Homo sapiens: one gene and its partner. The protein of the gene in region 1 interacts with the protein of each later gene in a pairwise test. Each region holds a gene or a part of one and is shown in the gene's direction. Other genes may lie near its edges.

Region 1 (3,500 bases):
TTCACTGCATGCATGTGCAGATTAGTACTCAGCCACAGCCTTGAGAGAATCCCTTTGTAGATGTTTGTAAGTTTCTGTGAAGTTCCCTCCTCTGTGTTACTCTGCTTAGCAAATTGTAGCTGCCTTGGTATGACAGAGTTTTTCTTCCTGTATACTTTGCTCTGTAAAGCCAAACTTCACTTCTAGCAATCTTTTAAAATGCAAACTGATTTTTAAATTTTTGGTATAATTTTACATCAAGAAAACCAAATGAGATTTATTTAATATATGACTATTTATTAATAATGTATTATTTATCCATATACTCTCCCTCTATACAGAGTGGGAAATTGTTTTTCTATGGTAACTGTGGTCAGACCTTTGTAAAATATATTCCATACTTTTTATTTCTAAGTCTTTGCTTATTTTGTAGATCCATATATTCTCCTTTTCTGCCAGCCTTATAAATTAGGCTGTTGCTTTAGAGCAGGAGCTGGCACTTTTCTGTAAAGGTTTGAAGAGTAAATATTTTAGGCCTTGCAGGTGTATGGTCTTTGTTGCTGCTACTTAACTCTGCTCTTGTAGTGAAAAAGAAGCTACAGACAACATATAAATGAATGGTCATAAATGTGCTCCAATAAAACTTTACTTACAAAGTAGGCAGTGGGTCAGATTTGACCTGTTGGTTGTAGTTTGCCTACTCTAGCTTAGGGAATTTTTCAATTTAAAATATTTGCATGAACAAATGCCCAAATAATGTGGAGTGAACCATATGGGGAAAAAGCATTCTAGGACAAGGGAAGAAATTATAAGGACCCTGAAGTAGGAATGATCTTCATTATGTTCAAGGAACTGCCAAAAGACAAGGGTGGATGAATCAAAGTAAATGAGGGAAAGTGTGGTAGGAGATGAAGTAGAGAGGTAGGTAAATCATGTGGCTCTTTTTTCCTCTATAAGGACTCTGGATTTTATCTCAGATGTGATGGTAAACATAAGAGTATGCTGAGCAGGGAAATGGCTTGATCTCATTCATGATATGTGTAGAATAGGGTGCAGATGGGCAAGAGAGGAAACAGAAGAGTAAAAAGCTATTGCAGTAGTTCCAGGCCAGTGATATTTCTGGAAGTAGTCAGAAGTGTTTGGGCACAAGATATATTTTGAAGGTGGAGCTGACAGAACTTTTCGTTATATGAACGTGGCATGAGAAGGAAAGAGAGGACAAAAAGCTGACTCATGGGAATCTTCAGAGCCAGTGCAGGCTGAACTAGCTAGAGATGTGTCAGAGGCTTAGCAAAGAGAGCAGAGTGGGATTCCAAAACGTTGCTAAAAAGTCTTTATGGTACCTCCAAAGAAAACCCAGTCCTCACATCAGAAAGATTAACAACCCAAAGTGAATGGGGATATGTAAGGGGATAGGGATTTAGCCTATATGGAAAAATTCAAGATTCTTAATTCTTCAAAGCCTCTTGTTGGAAAGAGAAGTCCCTGGGATAATGGAAAAGACTCAGGCTTTTCTGAGAAGATAGAGTTAGACTAGAGTTCATGACTAGCCTGGCCAACATGGTGAAATCCTGTCTCTACTAAAATTACAAAAAATATCAGCTGAGCGTGGTGGTGCATGCCTGTAATCCTAGCTACTCAGGAGGCTGAAGCAGGAGAATTGCTTGAACCCAGGAGGCGGAGGTTGCAGTGAGCCGAGGTTGTGCCACTGCACTCCAGCCTGGGGGACAGAGCAAGAATCTATCTCAAAAAAAACAAAACAAAACAAACAAACAAACAAAAAAAAAACAGAGAGAGAGAAACTAGATTGATTCTGCTTCCAAGGATAAATAAATCCAATAACAACAAATGCATGCATACATGTATCTGTGTCCATGGTGTGCACACACATAGCTATTAGGTCTCCTTTATCAAATTTCATGTCAAGGTCCAATGATCTCACATCTGGAATTTGTGTCATCCTCTTGCTGGTCAGCTTTCAACCTCTCTTCATTTAGTTTAGATATTCTTTTTTATACTGCTGCCCTTTGAATTGTCTAAACCAATGCTTGTAAAATTATCTGTGATGAAGGGCCAATCAAAAAAATCTCAATCTGTCATGGACTGATACTTTTGTAGAATACAATATAAATTACTTGAAAAAGTAAAATTAAAAAAAGCAAAGATTACAAAGTACAAGCCCAATTTTGTAATTATTAGATTCAACTGACATAAAATTACTGTCAATTTGCTATGAAAGTTTTTAAAAGTTTACTGTTAATTTCTATACTATCTTTGTCCGAGACTGTTAACCACATGGTATGTGGACCACATTATGAGTAGCAATGACATAAACCACTCTAGATCTCAAAAATCTCATTATCTGTTAAACCAAAATAAACCTCTCACTATTGTCCTCTAAACTCTGTACCAGTTAGTTCAGTCTTGCCTGTGTCTAACAGGCAAGCTCTTGTGTTCTCTTCCACACAGGGGACTGTTTTTAATCCATTTCTTTCTTTCCGTTTATTCAAAACATCCTAAATACATCTCATGTATATACAACTGAATACTTACCTTCCTCAGAAAGCTTTCCTAGAACATCCTTACCTAATTTTTACCCCTTTGGCATTTGTATTTTCTTATATTTATTAGTATAGGTTTATATTATTTGTATTGTTTCCTTTAGTAGAGCATAAATTACTTCTGAGTAAACCCTGATTTTTACCCTAAATATAAAAATGTCTAGAATATAGTAACATGGATACCCAAACAATAAAAAGCATGTAAGTGGCCAGGTGCGGTGGCTCATGCCTGTAATCTCAGCACTTTGAGAGGCCTAGGCAGGTGGGTTGCTTGGGGCCAGGAGTTCAAGGCCAGTCTGGCCAACATGGCGAAACCCTGTCTCTACTAAAAAATTACAAAGATTAGCCAGGTGTGGTGGCACACACCTGTAATCCCAGCTATTTGGGGGGCTGAGGCACGAGAATTGCTTGAACCCAGGAAGCGGAGGTTGCAGTGAGCCGAGATCGCACCACTGCACTCCAGCCCTGGGCAACCTTGTCTGCCTCAAAAAAAAAAAAAAAAAAAAAAAAAAAAAAAGCATATAAGTAATTGCTTGCCTGTCTAAGAGTCTATGTGTATGGGGAGATAAAGTACTATTGAATATGAAATACTATCTTTTACTGTGGGAATTTGTGTTTACCCCCCTTTCTCCCATGCTCTGCTTTCTTTTATTTTCTTACTAGGCCTGTCTCCACTAACTCTGGACCCTAAAACAGCTCACCCAAATCTGGTGCTCTCCAAAAGCCAAACCAGCGTCTGGCATGGTGACATTAAGAAGATAATGCCTGATGATCCTGAGAGGTTTGACTCAAGTGTGGCTGTACTGGGCTCAAGAGGCTTCACCTCTGGAAAGTGGTACTGGGAAGTAGAAGTAGCAAAGAAGACAAAATGGACAGTTGGAGTTGTCAGAGAATCCATCATTCGGAAGGGCAGCTGTCCTCTAACTCCTGAGCAAGGATTCTGGCTTTTAAGACTAAGGA
Region 2 (3,500 bases), on another chromosome or scaffold:
TTGTGACTCTCATGTCAGAAATTCTATGCATAGGAACAGCGGGGATGCAAACGGTCAGTATCTACTAGTGCTATGAGACTTTCAGAACAAGGAAGTGGGTCAAAGCAGCCTGATGAATGCTTGATTATAACTACTTCTGTCCATAATTCTTGTTAGCCCTATGAGGATGGCCTCACAGGAAGTGGGATGACTGAGAGGCCCAGGTAGGGAGCACAGCAATGGTGAAGCAGCTGGGAAAGAGGCATTGTCGGGGCAGATGCTGAGCCCTGAAGTGGCTCCCATCCTCACCTTCAAAATCTGCATCACCCTCCTCCTTAGTAACATCACTCCTCAAGGCTTCCAAAATTGCAAGAAGGGAACAAGGATGATGTGACACAAATTGTCCTTGGTTTCTTGATTAGAAAATAGTGGTCCATTTGCAAAGACTGTGTAGTAGAACTGTAAAAACACTAAAGCAATGTATTTGGAGATGTAACCAGAAAAACACTTCCATGCTAAATGTGAAAAGATAGAAGTGACCTAGAATTACTTGGCTGGCTAAACCTAATTATGGCACAATTAACGGATTCCTTGGCATTAAAGCGATTGTAGGGACCAAGGGACTGATTGCTAGAAAGCTGATAAGGTGTATTACCACTCCCCCTTCACATCTACTTCCTTCTAACTAAAAGTATACAGTTTGGGCCAAAACTGCTCCTGCTAGCGAAATATGAAAAGAAATTTCTCCTCTGCCCTCTGAAGGTTCACTGAAAATGAACTGACAAGAGACAGATTAATAGAAGGAAAGGCATACAGATTTATTTAACATGTATAAGCACTGGGGAATCGCCAATAACCCAGTGGGGTCCAGATGCTTATATATCCTTCTTCATAGGGGATGAGGGGATGGTGGGAGTGTGTAGGAGTAAATGACTTTCAGGGAAAATGAATGGGTCCAAAGAACAATGCCTTGGGATGAAGTTCCTTGAGCTTATGAGAGGCAGTGGGAAGGCGAGGGGTGGAACTTCACTGTGAACAAAAGTCTTCTCATTATGCAGGTAAAGTTCCCCAGGTTGTCTCTGTCTGCCTGGATTCCCAGGCAAGGGATCTTAAGACAATTACATTTCTTCATCTTCTTCTTTTCTTTTCTTAATAGATGGGGTATTGCTTTGTTGCCCAGGCTGGAGTGCAGTGGCATGATCATAGCTCACTGAAACCTCAAACTCCTGGACTCAAGCTATCCTCCCACCTCAGCCTCTTGAGTAGCTAGGACTACAGGCACACACCACCATGCCTAATTTTTAGACTTTTTGTAAAGACAGGGTCTCTCTATGTTGCCCAGGCTGGTCTCGAACTCCTGGGCTCAAGCAATCCTCCTACCTCAGCCTCCCAAAGTGCTGAGATTACAGGCATGAGCCACTGGGCACATCCTAATTACATTTCTTTTGGAAAGAAATGCCCCTAGTCAGATAGCGAAATTCCAGAAAGAGTCTCTCTCAGTGCTTCAGGAAAAAGGATCAGAGAGACCAGAGACCAGGCAGGTCAGAGGGAGACCTGGAGGTGCTTCTTCAGTTCACCAGGTCAAGTGCCAAGTGTCAGTATTTTAGGGTATTGTTTGCAGACCCCCAGTGCAAAGATACAAGGCAAGTTACTGTTGGTATCAATAGCAAGTTCCAAGTGTGGCAGCACAAGATTTCATTCAAAAAGCAGACCATAATAGTATACATTTGCTTTGCACTGTGTGGACCTTCGAGCTTGAATAATCCCTAGTGGCTCCACTGCTCTAGAGTGAAGGCAGGAAAACAAAGGGGTTACACAGTCTGCTCTCTTGCCTCTGGCTGAGGGCCACATTCCTCGGGAGCAGTCAGGAGTTCAAGAGAAGGGGACAAGTGGAAGCTCACTGTGCTCCTAGCCCAGCCCTGCTAGTCTCATTCCCCAGCCATAGTATAGACCTTCTGCCCTGTGAAAGGCTCCAGGAATGGCAGCCCGGCTGTGCACTGCTCCGAGAGTGCACTCAGGACAATCCCATCAGGAGGTGATGAGGATCATTTGTTTGACCATTCCCTAGTCAGGGATAATGGTTAGCACTGATAATGAGGTAACAGTTTGCTTCCTTCTGCTAATTAGGAGAGTCTGCCTTGGACTCTAGAAGCTGTGGAAACTGCCAAGTCATGCATTTAGACTGCTTTCAGTTTTTACAAGTGCTGAATGGGTCTTAAGACTTAGTAACTTACCTTTCAAAGAGTTAAGGAAGCATTTAATGCATTTGCTTATATACCACTTATTAACTACAGAGGCTGCCAGACTTCATCTTAAATGGTGTCAAAAGTATCATTGGTGTTGAAAGTCTTTATTGACACCTTGATAAAGTTCAGAGTTGTCACTGTGACGTTCATGACATTGGCATTTCGCTGGGCCAGGACTGATTGTTAGAAAGTTGATAGATGTTTATTACCACTCCCCCATCACACATACTTTCTTCTAAATAGGCCCAAACTGTCCCTGCTAGAGAAATATAAAAGGAAGTTTCCTCACTAAGAGCTATAAGCCAAAAGTAGCGCCTGCTAACGTTGTTATTGGTGTTCCTCAGAAGGTGAATTCTCTACCTGAATTCCACCTGGAGAATGGCCAAGTCCCTCAGGGCGGGTCTTTGACCTTCTTCCACTCTTCCTTTCTTTTTATTTTATTTTATTTTATTATTATTATACTTTAAGTTTTAGGGTACATGTGCACAATGTGCAGGTTAGTTACATATGTATACATGTGCCATGCTGGTGCGCTGCACCCATTAACTCGTCATTTAGCATTAGGTATATCTCCTAATGCGATCCCTCCCCGCTCCCCCCACCCCACAACAGTCCCCAGAGTGTGATGTTCCCCTTCCTGTGTCCATGTGTTCTCACTGTTCAATTCCCACCTATAAGTGAGAACATGCGGTGTTTGGTTTTTTGTCCTTGCAATAGTTTACTGAGAATAATGATTTCCAATTTCATCCATGTCCCTACAAAGGACATGAACTCATCATTTTTTATGGCTGCATGGTGTATATGTGCTCACCATCACTGGCCATCAGAGAAATGCAAATCAAAACCACAATGAGATACCATCTCACACCAGTTAGGATGGCAATCATCAAAAAGTCAGGAAACAACAGGTGCTGGAGAGGATGTGGAGAAATATGAACACTTTTACACTGCTGGTGGGACTGTAAACTAGTTCAACCATTGTGGAAGTCAGTGTGGCGATTCCTCAGGGATCTAGGACTAGAAATACCATTTGACCCAGCCATCCCATTACTGGGTATATACCCAAAGGACTATAAATCATGCTGCTATAAAGACACATGCACACGTATGTTTATTGTGGCACTATTCACAATAGCAAAGACTTGGAACCAACCCAAATGTCCAACAATGATAGACTGGATTAAGAAAATGTGCCACTCTTCCTTTCATTCCTCCTGGTCATGCTCATCGCTTCCAGAGGGCTCCAAATGGGATCTCACCTTCAAAGCTCACACA

What was found. Proteins that work in one complex are often made in the same cells at the same time.
Region 2: the proteins of TRIM69 (region 1) and IYD interact in binary tests that used the Homo sapiens proteins (3 or more experiments, as listed by UniProt).

Annotation. Positions count from the first base shown.
Region 1 is NC_000015.10:44,764,028-44,767,527, forward strand, and holds part of TRIM69 (E3 ubiquitin-protein ligase TRIM69), read left to right. Parts: intron 1-3,203; coding exon 3,204-3,500.
Region 2 is NC_000006.12:150,375,512-150,379,011, forward strand, and holds part of IYD (iodotyrosine deiodinase 1), read left to right. Parts: intron 1-3,500. UniProt on the Homo sapiens protein: Catalyzes the dehalogenation of halotyrosines such as 3-bromo-L-tyrosine, 3-chloro-L-tyrosine, 3-iodo-L-tyrosine and 3,5-diiodo-L-tyrosine.